Homo sapiens: one gene and its partners. The protein of the gene in region 3 purifies or fractionates together with the protein of the main gene of each other region. This does not show direct contact. Each region holds a gene or a part of one and is shown on either strand. Other genes may lie near its edges.

What was found.
Region 1: the proteins of MFAP5 (region 3) and MOCS1 purify together in Homo sapiens (affinity purification with mass spectrometry; one large-scale study listed by BioGRID and IntAct). This does not show direct contact.
Region 2: the proteins of MFAP5 (region 3) and MANBA purify together in Homo sapiens (affinity purification with mass spectrometry; one large-scale study listed by BioGRID and IntAct). This does not show direct contact.
Region 4: the proteins of MFAP5 (region 3) and GALNT18 purify together in Homo sapiens (affinity purification with mass spectrometry; one large-scale study listed by BioGRID and IntAct). This does not show direct contact.

What each region holds. Positions count from the first base shown.
Region 1 is NC_000006.12:39,927,963-39,931,462, reverse strand, and holds part of MOCS1 (molybdenum cofactor biosynthesis protein 1), read left to right. Parts: intron 1-3,500. UniProt on the Homo sapiens protein: Isoform MOCS1A and isoform MOCS1B probably form a complex that catalyzes the conversion of 5'-GTP to cyclic pyranopterin monophosphate (cPMP).
Region 2 is NC_000004.12:102,750,969-102,754,468, forward strand, and holds part of MANBA (beta-mannosidase precursor), read right to left. Parts: intron 1,868-3,500; exon of another isoform or gene 279-1,867; intron 1-278.
Region 3 is NC_000012.12:8,649,327-8,652,826, reverse strand, and holds part of MFAP5 (microfibrillar-associated protein 5 isoform a precursor), read left to right. Parts: intron 1-1,135; coding exon 1,136-1,165; intron 1,166-2,237; coding exon 2,238-2,325; intron 2,326-3,252; coding exon 3,253-3,326; intron 3,327-3,500. UniProt on the Homo sapiens protein: May play a role in hematopoiesis. In the cardiovascular system, could regulate growth factors or participate in cell signaling in maintaining large vessel integrity. Component of the elastin-associated microfibrils.
Region 4 is NC_000011.10:11,619,206-11,623,324, forward strand, and holds the start of GALNT18 (polypeptide N-acetylgalactosaminyltransferase 18), read right to left. Parts: upstream 2,801-4,119; 5' UTR 2,389-2,800; coding exon 2,154-2,388; intron 1-2,153. UniProt on the Homo sapiens protein: Catalyzes the initial reaction in O-linked oligosaccharide biosynthesis, the transfer of an N-acetyl-D-galactosamine (GalNAc) residue from UDP-GalNAc to a serine or threonine residue on the protein receptor.

The DNA.
Region 1 (3,500 bases), on a different chromosome or scaffold from region 3:
AAAGAGATTAATTTTAAGAGACCCTTAGTATACATCATCCCAATAGCAGGGTAAATCAGGGCCACGATACTTAGATTTGGAATGTGCTTTTTTTCCTCTCGAATAACCCTGCTGCTCTGTTTAGACTTTGGAGCTATTTGAGGGCTAGCCTTTAGCAGTCAAATCAGATGCCTAAGATGAGTGACTAGTAGAGGAGGGCACCTTGAGGGCAGGGTCCCGCTTTAACTCTTTTGTCCCACCCTTCCCCACCCCCTTCACCCTAATCTGCATTGGGTAGACATGAGATGACCAGTAGTGTCTGGCAGGCTGCTTAGTGCCTGCTGATGCACACCAGTATTGGTGGTCCTGGGGATGCTCAGACCCCACTTGGGTGGTGTGGCAGCAGCTTTGAAACCCTGCCTCTGGCCATCTGCTGTTAGTAGGGTTGGAAGGCCAGGGTCTTGGAAGGGAAGGGAAGCTGACAAACTAGAAAAACTGATCACAGCACACAACAGTGTTCCTCCATGGATCACTGAATGAAAACCTCGGTGCCAGGAACTCCTCCAACTGAGTTAGGTTGGATTATTATTTCCACTGCATAGATGAGGAAACTAAGGTTTCGAGAATTTAGGTGACTTGCTCAACAGCTAGAGCCAGGCTTGTAATATAGGCTCACCTACTCCAAATCCTGTGCTCAGAACCACAACAACTTGCCCTGGATTAAAATAGCACCTGGCACTTGGTGTCACTAGGCCGATGGTTCTCAGCCCTGGCTGCACAGCTGAGGCACTAGATTGAGCTAGAATCTTTGGGACAGATTCTAGCTCCTTCTTGAAACTAGAATCCTTCTTGAAGCTCCTTGAGTGATTTTGATGGGCTGCCAGGGTTTCAAACCACTATACCAGGTTAAACCATTTTGACAGTAGAGACCAGCCGGGAAATGATTACCCCCATGTAACTGGCTTTTGCATATACGACCTTTCTGCTTACATTAGGGACAGGACTATTTGTTCATGTGATTCAAAATGTACCAACATCCTGTGCTAGACACTGGGGATACTGAATCAGGCAGAATGACTTCTCACGGAGAGGAAACAGCCCAGGCCAGCCTGGGACCCTGGGAATATGATCCGTTGAGTGCTTCCTACTACTTCTGGCATGTCCCAGCCCTCCTGAGCAAGCAGGGTTGCTGTCTACTCTGTCCTATAATTCCCTCTGAATCTTGGGCTCCTTTGACTGGTGCTGATATTTTTTTCCTCCAGGAGACTTAAGGGACAGGGAAAAAAGTAGAAGAATGAAAGTAGGGCATGCAGTGTTAGAGGAGAGAAGATGCAGGAATGGGGCTCGTTAATATCTGAGTAATGAGTTTGCATTGCTGGCAGGGTGAGAGTGTGTGTGTTTAGGAGGCTGGGTTCAGAACGGGTGGTGCAGTCTGCATAAGTCTAGACAAGGTCACAGAAGTTCTTAAAAGTGAAATCTGACCAGCCTCTCCCATTGCCAGAACAAAAGCACCAAATTCCATTTTTTTTTTTTTTTTTTTTTTTGAGAGAATCTCGCTCTGTTGCCCAGGCTGGAGTACAGTGGTGCGATCTTGGCTGACTGCCACATCTGCCTTCTGGGTTCAAGCGATTCTCTTGCCTCAGCCTCCCGAGTAGCTGGGATTACAGACTCGCGCCACCACAGCCAGCTAACTTTTGTATTTTTTAGTAGAGACGGGGTTTTGCCATGTTGCCCAGGCTAGTCTCACACTCCTGGCCTCAAATGATCTGCCCTCCTCGGCCTCCCAAAGTGCTGGGATTCCAGGCGTGAACCACCACACCCGGCCCCTAATTCCATTCTTGATTGCTCCATCACACTGCTTGCTCTCAGGTTTCTGCTGAATAATGCTCCTTGGTCCTCTCAACTTCCAATTCTTTGATGTATTTTGACTCCTCCCCCATCCAGCCACCCCATCCCCCCATCATGTCAAGACTGGGTTGAGGGGGGGTATCTTGGCAAGTGAAGAGGCAGAATCTAGGGTGACTAACATGACTGAATTGCAAATAGCTGTTGATGAAAAAGAGGGCACAGCACTGCAATACATCCAGATTCCCAGGTATCTCATCTGGACTCCGGTGGCTGATGGGATTCTTGATTATGGAGTGCTCCCCGCCCCAACCCTGAGGCTATCTGTGGAAAGGCAATGGGTTGAGTTTGAGTTTTCTCCATCATACCGCAGGGAGGGAGGAAGTGACTGTTGTGATTATAGCAGACGGCAGTTAGAGAAGTGACTGCTGCTTACTCCCCACAGGATGGTGAGCAGGGCTTCTCAGAGGAGGTGGGAAATTCTCCCGCGGTGGGTAGAGTGAGGAATGTTTTATGGGCCCAGAAAATCAAGAGCAGCTTCACACATACTCTCATGTCTCTTATCTTTGAGCCACTCAGTGGCTCTTGACCCAGTCAAGGGCTGCCGATGAGAATTACCTGGAGAGATTGAAAACGTAACAGATTCAGAGATCCAGATTTAGTTGGTCTCCACTGGAATGTTTTTTTAAAGTTCTCCAGATGGTTCTAATGTGCAGCTGGAGCTGAGGAACTTACTGAAGCAAATGCTTCTTCCTCCTAATTGTAGGCATAGTTGCGCTAGACCTTTGGAGGGCCTGAGACCTTCTGTTCTTCATCATAATTTTAAGTGTTCACCTACCATCTTCTGATACCACCACTACCACTCCACCCCTGTCTTTACTCCTAGCAAGACAACCTTAGCCTGTAGCTGTATTCTTATTTTACAACTGGGAAAGCAGGCCTGGAGAAGTTAAGGGACTTTCACAGTGTACCAGGTCATACCTACTGCAGAAACCAGGGTTTCTTATTCCCATTCCAGAACCTTGTCTGTAGATCTCATGCATGACTTCCAGGGTCGTGATTTTTTTGTCTGAAATATTCTAGAGAAGTGACTTCTACCCACCCTAGTTGTCATCCTCCCTATCTTCTTGGACTCTCTCTGTGATAGAAGGGAGTAATTTAGAACCTGGAATCAGGGTCGGGTGTGGTGGCTCATGCCTGTAATCCCAGCACTTTGGGGGGCCAAGGCAGGTGGATCACGAGGTCAGGAGATCGAGACCATCCTGGCTAACACAGCGAAACCCCGTCTCTACTAAAGATACAAAAAATTAGCCGGGTGCAGTGGCGGGTGCCTGTAGTCCCAGCTACTTGGGAGACTGAGGCAGGAGAATGGCATGAATCTGGGAGGTGGAGTTTGCAGTGAGCCAAGATCGCGCTACTGCACTCCAGCCTGGGCAAAAGAGCGAGACTCCATCTCAAAAAAAAAAAAAAAGAACCTGGAATCAGAAGACCTGGATTTGAATCCTGCTTCTGCCGAGGGTGTTCTTGGACCCCATCCAAGCCTTAGTTATAATAATCCCTTGTGGAGTGGGTGTGGGAATGAAACAGAACGTTCTTTGGAAACTTTAAGATGCTTGGTAAATGCTACTTCCTTGGAGCAATTATCTCATCAGCATCTGTCGGGACCCAGGTTGTAC
Region 2 (3,500 bases), on a different chromosome or scaffold from region 3:
AGAAGAAACAAAATTAGCCACGAATTGATCATGTTGAAGCCAGGTGATGGATACATGAAATTTCATTTTGCAAGTATCTCTATTTTACTATTTGTTTGAAATTCACCCAAAGTTTAACAAAATTCACATAGAAACTGCTTATTTGCTACTTAAAGAATACAAAAGTAGAATGTACACTGATGCACATATATTGTTAGAATGTACTTATGAGTGATAACCTGCAGATTGGAGACTCCATAGACAGACTCATGGCTCCTTAGAAAGAATGATTGTGGGTGGAGCAGACCCAAGGAGGAAAAGCAGAGTCCAGGCTTAGACTGCAGCTTCTCGCTTACCTGTGCAGTCTAATTTTGAGCGGCCTCTTTGTAGTTAAGAGACAGGAGCTCCCATTCTCTCTCTACTAACCCAAAAGTCTTGTGTGTACTCCTTGCCTTGGCTCAGCTCCAAACACATTTCTACACCGATAACAAGAAATATGCTGTAAATGATGTTTCCTTCTCAATCCCTGCCGCCTCTGAATTTGCTGACCTTAGTAACATCATCAATAAATTACTAAAGGACAAAAATGAGTTCCACAAACATATGGAGTTTTATTTCCTTATTAAGGGCCAGTTTCTGCGAATGTCCTTGGTCAAACACATGGAACTGGAGAACATGTCATCAGAAGTAGTTGTGGAAATAGAATATGTGAAGTACACAGCACCCCAGCCAGAGCAATGCATGTTCCATGATGACTGGATCCTTTCAGTTAAAGGGGCAAAGGAATGGATCTTGACTGGTTCTTATGATAAGACCTCTCAAATCCGGTCCTTGGAAAGAAAGTCAATAATGACAATTGTTGGACATAGGGATGTCTTAAAAGATGTGGCCTGGGCCAAAAAAAAAGATAGTTTGTCTTGCTTATTTGTGAGTGCCTCTATGGATCCAACTATTCTCTTATGGGAGTGGAATAGAGAGAAACAAAGTGAAAGCCCGACCGTGCTGCAGAGGTCATGCTGGAAGTGCAGAGTCTATAGCTGTTGATAGCTCAGGAACTAAATTTTGTAGTGGCTCCTGGGATAAGATGCTAAAGATCTGGTCTACAGTCCCTACAGAAGAAGAAGATGAAATGGAGGAATCCACAAATCGACAGAGAACACAGAGCAGCTATGACTCCCATAGTGACCCTCTCTGGTCACAAGGAAGCAATTTCCTCAGTTCTGTGGTCAGATGCTGAAGAAATCTGCAGTGCATCTTGGGACCATACAATTAGAGTGTAGGATGTTGAGTCTGACAGTCTGAAGGCAAGCTTTGACAGGAAATAAAGTGCTTAATTGTATTTCCCATTCTCCAACTTTGTAAACGTTTAGCATCTGGAAGCACAGATAGGCATACCAGACTGTGGGATCCCCGAACTAAAGACCATTCTTTGGTGTCACTGTCCCTAACTTCAAATACAGGTTGCGTGACATTAGTAAAATGGTCTCCTACCCATGAACAGCAACTGATTTCAGGATCTTTAGATAACATTGTCAAGTTGTGGGATACAAGAAGTTGTATGATCTGGCTGCTCATGAAGACAAAGTTCTGAGTGTAGACTGGATAGGGACACAGGGCTACTTTTCAGTGGACAAGCAGACAATAAATTGTATTCCTACAGATATTCACCTACCACTTTCCATGTGGGGGCATGAAAGTGAATGATAAATTGATCATAGAGATTCTTTATACAAATGAACTTGGTAGAAAATCATGAAATTATACTGATGCAGATGCAGAAAGCAGCCGTTTGAAATTTATATAATGTTTTCACTCTTCATAACAGCTAACATTTAACTATCTTTTTCTTATTTTGTATTTATAATAGTTTGTGTTTATAAAATAAAAAGAATGATTGTGACTAGCTTGTTAATCACATGTATAGCTACTATGATGTACTCTTACAGTTTATAGTTAATTAACTTACACATCTAAAATATATCTTTCTCTGGCCATTTGTCCCAATTGCATGTGAAGAATATAAGGTAATAATAAAATTTACGGAAAAAGTACTAAGTATCTGTTGCCTACCACTTTTTAGTATATGTGTATATTTATATACTTATAATTTTTATTTTCAAGTGTAGATTTTGAATAAGAACACATCTTTATAATGGGGTGTATGAAGCTATTTGCAATAATCCTGGATCTATATTTACAGACACAGACAAATATATTCATGATATGTTTTAAATGTTAAAGTAGCTAATAAAACCACCTTAGGGGATGATTTCATTTTTATGTTATATTTGTCTCTATATACTTAGAAAAAAATGTGGAAAGATAAACACTTTTTTACAGTGGTCTTTTTCTGCTTTATATTATGTGTTTTATTGGTTTTTCTTCCTTCTTTATATTTTCTGTATTTCTTTTATCCAATGAACACTACATAAATACGTATTTTTAAAAGAATTTTAATCATGTAACCTTTCTAAAGATTAAAAGAGAAGGAATAACAATATTATATCAGTATATGCGAATTTAGTGCATGATAAAAGTAATATATCAGCGGACAAAAGAGAAATTCTTCAAATCATGAGTTATAGGCAACCAATTAACTATTTGGAAGAAACCTCAAATGAATCAAAATTTTAAATATAGGAACTATAAAGATAGCTGAGAGGAATTATTTTTAAGCAAACTACCAAAGACAGAAACAATCATAAAAGGAAAACAAAAGATTTCAACATACACAGCTTTAAAACATCCATATGACAAAATACTTCATTAATAAATGGGACATTTGGGGATTTAGTTTTAATTTGAATTTTTGAAAATATATAACAAAGGGGCCTTATAAATCTATATTAAAGAGGCCACCCATGGTGGCTCACACCTGTAATCCCAGCACTTTGACAGGCCGAGGTGGGCGGATTGCCTGAGCTCAGGAGATCGAGACCAGCTTGAGCAACACGGTGAGACCATGAGAATCGCTTGAACCTGGGAGGCAGAGAATGCAGTGAGGAAGATGATGCCACTTCACTCCAACCTGGGCGACAGAGTGAGACTCTGTCTCAAAAAAAAAAAAAAAGAAAAAAAAAATCACCATTAAAGATAAATAGCCAAAAGAAGATGAATTAGAAATGCCCATGTCACCAATAAACTTATGAAATAAACGTATAAAGGTATTTGACCTTACTAGAAAATAAATTGATTTTGTTTTGTTTCTTAAATAATATTCAAATCTAGCACCTAAGATAAGCACTCTGATAAAATAATGGTGGCAGTGTACAACTGGTACAATGTTTATGAAAAGCAACTTAGAAGCACGTACTAAATGACTAATAAAAGTACATATCCTATGAATCAGCTATTTAACTTTTAAATATTTGTCTAAGAAAATAAAGATGTACAGTAAAATTTAGTTAAAAGGATCCTCATCAGAAAAATAGAAAAAAATGGAGTCCAATCTAACTATCCAACAATAAGTAACAGATTATAACTGATGGTAATTGTATATAACATAATTTTTAAAAAGCCAC
Region 3 (3,500 bases):
AAGATAATTAAGTCTGTTGGATATACATTGAATGTGAAAGATCTTTGAAATATTCAAGAACTCTTCCATAAAAAGGCAGTTGGATTTATAGGTCTGGAGTTTAGGAGAGAGATGAGGTTGGAAATACAGGTTTGGGAATTATCAGCATATACACCTGCCTAGAAACCATGGGATAGATGAGATCTCATAACACAGGTCCTAGTATTCTATTTGCAACACTTCCAGTGACATTTTTCCTGGTAACTCCCCTGACTAGTCTATTCATCTAACTCCTTGGCTTGTTCTTCATTCTGTGAATAAGGCCCATGTTAAATTTGCCCCTAGGTTAGGATGACTCTCATTATTCTTTATTTATTTATTTATTTATTTATTTATTTATTTTGAGATGGAGTCTCCCTCTGTCACCTAGGCTGGAGTGCAATGGTACGATCTTGGCTCACTGCAGCCTCTGCCTCCCAGGTTCAAGTGATTCTCCTGCCTCAGCCTCCTGAGTAGCTGGGATTACAGGTGCACATCACTACACCCAACTAAGTTTTGTATTTTTAGTAGAGAGGGGGTTTCACCATGTTGGCCAGGCTGGTCTCAAACTCCTGACCTCAAATAATCTACCTGCCTTGGCCTCCCAAAGTGCTGGGATTACAGGTGTGAGCCATTGTGCCCAGCTGACCCTCATTATTCTTTACCCAACAGCTTCTATCAAGAGAATTTATGATGATGTATCTAATCTACAGAAAATAAATTTTCTCTTATAAGGAAGAGCTTGTACAGGATAATAATCTTTTCTCTGCTTAGCTCTAGGAAGAAGCTCCTCTGGGCATGTAACTCTTTGCCTTGTGTTCCTACTAAATTTGCTTCTTGTCAACAATACAGAGATACTCACAATACAATGAATTTCTCAACTCTTTAGAAAGGAAAGGAGAAAGGAAAAAAATCCCATCCTGCCTCCTAATGTCTTCAATTTTGTGGAGCAAATCAGCTCAATAAGGGTTTTCTTTTAGAAGTTGCTAAGAGTTATTAATTCATTTGCTCCCTATTTATGGGCACTCCAAGCAGGTCCTAAGTGAGGCAGTGTGGCAGTTACAGAAGTAGTAACTTCTAGAATTGGTAACAGTGGAATAAAATTTCTGCCTTTCAGCCTCCCTCAGTGAAAAAAATACCACTGCAGGTATGATTGTTGCTTGCATGCCTTCTTAAGCCTTTTTTTCTTCCTGTGGATTCCTTACCTCCTTGTTCTTTGGAGGGTACTTGGCACATCTTCTAGTTTACTTCCAATTATTTCTCAAAGAGTATTAGTGTTCTTCACTCCCTTACTCTTTTTTTTAAAAAAATGAGCACCTGTCATAAAAGTCAAGGGGAAAGAATGGAACAAATGTTGCATGGTCCCCAAATAGCCCTCTCCCTAAAGTACCCTTGCACATTATGTGGTGGTTAGTGGATTGGGAAGTGAAATCAATTTAACTTCAAGGACTCCATATTACCACGGAGGCCATGGTTAAAATTGCATTTCCTAATGTACTGATAATTCTGATATATAGCTAGGGTTGAAAACTACTGGAACAGAGAAATAGCAACCTGCCTAAGAAATCTGATTCTTTCAGAATGGGATTATCAGCATTTCTATTTTATTTTACTATTTTGTTTTATTTTATTTTATTTTTCTGAGATGGAGTCTCACTCTGTCACCCAGGCTGGAGTGCAGTGGCGTGATCTTGGCTCACTGCAACCTCCGCCTCCCAGGTTGAAGTGATTCTCCCGCCTCAGCCTCCCGAGTAGCTGAGATTACAGGCAACTGCCACCACTCCTGGCTAATTTTTGTATTTTCAGTAGAGACGGGGTTTTACCTTGTTGGCCAGGCTGGTCTCGAACTCCTGACTTCAGGTGATCTGCCCGCCTCGTCCCCGCAAAGTGCTGGAATTACAAGCATGAGCCACCGTGCCCAGCCTATTTTATATTTCATAACGGACAATTCTAGAAAGACTTTATTCCTAGAAGTGCTCTCAGAGATTATTTTATCCACTTCTACTTCCAAGTAGGGAAGCGCCAAAACTTCATTTAGTCAATTCCCTCTTGCTGTGTTTTTGGTGGACGGAAAGGATGTAGCCCAATTTATAATGATTCTCTGTAGAGATTACTCTGTATTTTTTTCCTACTCTATCTATCCTTCCCAATTCCTTCAATCCTTCATTTATGCTGCTTCTATTTGGACCTCCTTATTTTTTTGTATTGGGCTTCCTCAGAGTGCTGGGATGAGAAATTTACCTGCACAAGGCTCTACTCTGTGCATCGGCCGGTTAAACAATGCATTCATCAGTTATGCTTCACCAGGTAAGGGATCCCAGAATGCCCAAAAAGCATCTTCCATGGTAGTGTTTCTGTGTTGATAACTATTTAATGAGCACCCACTATGGAATTGCAAACTTTGATGGGGCCAAAGTTTTTAGCACAACCCTCCTAGTTATTGCTGAATGTACCAACTAGAACCTGGAGTATGGGCTGAAGTGTACAAAGAACAGGCAGAGTAATAGAACTTAGAAGGGAAATGAAGGTGGGCGCTGGAGGAAGAAGGGTCATGAGGGAAATACTGGCATGCTCAATTTATTACCTGATAGAAGGAGACTGAAGAGAATGGCCCAGCTCTAAGGTAGAAAATAGTGGGGAGGAATATTAAGCCTGACTTTAGGTAGAGTGTGCAAAGTGTCACTAAGAAGAATAACTAAAACAATGGCCTTTGCAACAACTTGGATGGAGCTGGAGGTCATTATTCTAAATGAAGTAACTAAACAATGAAAAACCAAATATTGTATGTTCTCGCTTATAAGTGGGAGCTAAGCTATGAGGAGGCAAAAACATAAGAATGATATAATGGACTTTGGGGACTCAGGGGAAAGAGTGGGAGAGGAATGAGGGATAAAGGCTACACATTGGGTACGGTGTACACTGCTTGGGTGACGGGTGCACCCAAATCTCAGAAATCACCACTAAAGAACTTATCCATGTAACCAAAAACCACCTGTACACCAAAAACTATTGAAATAAAATTTAAAAAACAGAAGAGTAATTAATACCATTCCCTCCCCTATTTTCCAGTTGGGGGGCAAAAGTCTGAAATACTTAAGAAAATACAGTTGGGGAAAAGCAGATAGGGAAAGTGGGGAATATGAGAGTTGAAGAGGCATCCCAGACCCAGGTGAGTTCTCCTCTCAAGGCTTTCTTCCATCTCCTTCCTTGCCTATGACACTGGGACGTCTGCAGTTTACGACGTATGTACATCGTCAACAAGGAGATCTGCTCTCGTCTTGTCTGTAAGGAACACGAAGCTATGAAAGGTAAGATGATGTCTGGATGTTTAATGGAGAGAAGCAGTTATGAGAAGGGTAGATAGGGACATGATATTACTATATCCAAAGTCTGGTACTAGAGGAGGGCTTCAGGCTACCCCCTTAGAGTCCATCAGCTCCTGCTGGAAGTTATCTCAAATAAACAATCTACATAAAGCAGTA
Region 4 (4,119 bases), on a different chromosome or scaffold from region 3:
TGGCCCTCTGTCGAGATTGTGGTTATTTCTGAATACCCACAGGGGTCATTGCACGTGTACAAGTGGAACAACACGTGTTTTAGGGACCCTGTCTCCTATTTTTTTAACCTATCTTCTCCAATTTTTCAGGTATAGATTTGAAAGTGCTGAACAACACATAGTTATAAAGTTTCCGGGGAGAAAAATCACAATGCTTCCTTTCAACTTCAACATCATGCTTTTCCATGTGGAACCTTAGAAATCATGTGACATGGTCCACATTCCACATGACTGGCACCCACTCCGTTACAGGCTCAGGGGTTAATGGCATCCCCTGAAAGCATCCCCAAAGCAGTACCTTGCTCACCTCCTGCCTGACCAGAAAGAAAAGCACAAGAGAATCATTTTCCAGGAACACACACACACACAGAATCTGTGAATGAAAATCTCAAAATCTGTCGGCAAACTAGAAATGTCAAAGTAAGGCATGGCTTTGTGTCTCCTGGGGAACATTCTGAATCACCCTGGGGGAAACACTGTACTTCTATTGCTGATTAATAGTCAATCAAGACCTATGGGATGGAAAAGGACACGTAAGAAATAACAGCAACTGGCACCCACAGATAGGTAAATTGGTTTTCAAGCCCAGTGCCAGGTTGAGAGGCAGAGGCAGGTCTGAAGAAGAAGCTGTCAATGTCCCTCTTTTCTGGGAAGGTGCCGAAGCCATGGGCTTGTTTTGAAGTCATTAGTCAGGAAGCACTATGGATGTGGATGCCTCTCCTGCACTCACCTGAACCTCCCTGAACCTTCCCCTCCTGGAAAGGAACTATTCTGGACACCTGGGGAAACACCAAATTCAGACGGAGGAGCCATCTCTACTCTGGCAAGAGCAGCAGGTGCAAGGATTGGAATTCAGACATCCACGTGTAAACAAAAGGGAGTGCTCCTGGCGGGGGGGTGGGGGGTAAGCCTTCAGTTCAATTCGATTTTGCCAAGGTCTGCCATGCACTGGCCCCTGAGCCTGGTGGGCCTGCTAGGTTTACAGGGGAACCAAGCTCGGCCCTGCCCTTAAGAAGCTCACACACCTGGAAGAAAGCAGGGGGCGCGGGGAGGGGAGGAAGTGTGGACGTGAGCGCGCGCGCGCGCGCGTGTGTGTGTGTGTGTGCACACCCGGCACCAGTGCTCCTGGCGCCCGGAACTCCATTCCCTCCCATGACAGCTCATTGACCAGGTCGCCTCGGGAGAGCGCCCTGCAACCCCCACCCTCCCTTTGGACCCCCGCGCTGGTCTGGAGCGCACCCAACCAGCGTAACCTTACACTTCAGACCCAACCCAGGTCTGCTCAGCCCCGGCTGCTCCCAGGGCCTGAGAGTGGAGCTACAGTAGGGATCGGCCTTCACCCGGTCCCGGGCGGCTCCGCGGGGAAGGCGCAGCCCAGGGCGTGTTCTTCCAGTCTTGGGCGGAGTCATCACCACAGTGGACAGAGACTCCAGCGCTACTTCCCGGCGTTGACACCTGCTCCTGGAGAGGGTCCTGGACCCGCGGGCTGTGGTGGGGGTAGGGACTGCTATAGGTTCAAGCGGCTTTTCAACCACAGAGGGCTCCTTGCATTCCCTATCGCCTACCAACGGGATCACAGCAAGACTGGGGCTGGGGCTGATACAACGCAATTTTCCTAGCCTCGCTTGTCCGGCAGCCTGCGGGTCTTAACTGCCAATAGTCAGGGCCGCCGCGCGGGCATCTCGCCTGACGCCTACAGTGGCCAAAAAAGCTCGTTTGCCCGCGCGTTCCCTCTTGTACACACACAGACATTCACATGCACACACACTCTGAGCCGGACTTGTGTGCGATCCCGAGAGCCCGCGAGCAACCAGCCCAGAGTCACACGCACATTTGGACACGTGCGCAGCGCGCCCCCATACCGCCAGCTAGCTGCACACATCCGCTCGTGCAGCCCTGCGCACACACGTGTGCCCCGGGGAAGAGCGCACGGCCGCAGACAGAAGGTCCCGAACGCAGGCAGGAGCTCACACGCAGGCCCCACGACTACCACGCATCTGCGGCCCCAGAGCCCCGCCGTGGCTGAGTTGATGCGCACCAGCCCCAGCGCACCCCGCGCCGCGCGGGGCACTCCCGGGCCTCATGGGCGACCCAAGTTTCCGGGGCGCCCGTACCTTGAATGTGCTGCTTGATGACATTCTCCAGGTGGTCCAGCCGCTCAATAATCTTCAGAGTGTCCCCTTTGTCTTCCTCCAGCTTCTTGTCGGGCGCCGGCTCCTGCCCCCGCACATACACGCTGGCGATGTAGTTGGTGACCCAGCCCACGTAGAGCAGGCAGATGATGTTAGTCATGCCGCTCAGGATCACGCAAGTGGACACCAAAGTTTTGGTCTTCCTGGTGCACACCATTCTGGGCTCCTTCCTCCATATAGAGCTCCCGGGGGCCCTTCCTTGTCGTGCGCCCCGAACTCCCCCGCGCTCGCACCCCGTAGCACGTCCGGAGCCGCTGGGCACCTCAGCACCTGAGTCCCGAGGTTCTCCAAAGCCCGGTCCGCTGCCGGTGTAGCCGCCGTGCCCAAGTTTGCAGCTCCTGCCGCTGGCCACCCGGAGAGACCTTGACAAAGGAAACCAGGTGGATTTTTTTCCAAATTAAAAATCCCTGAACCCTTCCTAGAGGGGTCACGGGTAGCCGGCAGCCGCGCGTCCAGATGTGTACGTCTGGGAAACTTTGCCACTGCCTGTGTCGGCGGCCACGCCGCTTCCCATCGCCAGCGCCGGCTGCCTTGGCGGTCCGACCGGCCCGCGCTGCTAGGAGAACAGCGGCAGCGGCAGCGGCGGCGGGGAGAGCCGCGAAGCAGAGCGGCCCGGCCCCCTCCGAGCGACAAGCGCTGCCACCAATCGCGCTCCGGCTCGGGAGAGGGGCCGGTGCTGAGCGGCAGCGGACCAACGGGGAGGGAGCGGGGGGCGGAGTCCAGCTCCCAGGCCCCACCTGCTGGCCGCCCCTGGCTCCCGCCCCCAGGGACGCGCCCGGGCCTCCACCCGCGCCTGCACAGGCTGCCCCAGACCTGAAGCTCCCGGAGAGGGCGCGCTGCCAGTCCCAGCCCTTAGGTCGGCAGCTTCCTCCGTTAGGGGAATTCCATCTCTTGCTCTTGGGCAGGAATCTCCTGGTTTTGTGGAGGGGGTGGGGGGTTCGCACGGGTCAGCTTCTTTCATCCGCCCGGGGCTTCTCGCATTGGTGCCACCAGTCGACTCCTGGAATCTTTTCTTGGTTGCCAGGACGCTGAGAAGCCAAGGAAGTGCCAGCCCCAGCGGCATCCACTCCTTCCTTGGCCTCACTTGGGCCTCCACCCTGCCCTCTGCCCTTCAGCCACCGGCCTCCTGAGTGTGTCCAGACCTGGCCCTAAACCTGGCTGAAAGGAGCCAACCCTCCGGCAACCTCCCAGAAGCAACATTGGTGACCTATTAGATGACTCTCTCGACCACTTCTTCCCCCCCCCCACCCCCCACCCCCCACCCCCACCGCCTGCCCCAATTTTTGCCCCTATCTAGGTTTTTCTTTAAGTCTGTACAGCTCCCAGGACATGGATGTGTCCTTTAAGCCCAGTTTTCATTTATGTGGAACCAGGGTCATCCAGTGCATAAAGAAACCCTGCAAGGAAGTGCCGCTGAGGGGAACTGAGGTCTGTGAACTGTAAAGCCCTTCTACATGTTGTTTATGATTGCTATCATAGAGGGCGGTGGGAGAGACCTGTGACTGAGCACAGGAGGAGGCCAGACGCAGACAGTGATACTGCTGTGTTTGTTCTTACTGCCAATGTTTACTCATATTATCCTCTTCTGCTGAACACCCCGTTCTCAGCACCTGAACGGAATTCCTTTAAACAAAGACTTTTTACAACATAGATTTCCTGCCTCTTCTCCATCTCTGAGTTGCTTTATTTTTTTGGCCTAAGCCAGGGAGGCAGCCTGCTGCATGCCCACTTTGTTGTGTGCCAGCCTTCCAACCAGCCACAGAAATACTCAGGGCAGCTCCATCCTGGGATATCTTCTGGATTCAAATGACTGGCCCCACAAGAGAGGGAGAGCACAAAACCAAAGAAAGGGCACTTTATGGCCCCATCAGCCAAGGGCCCTTCTACC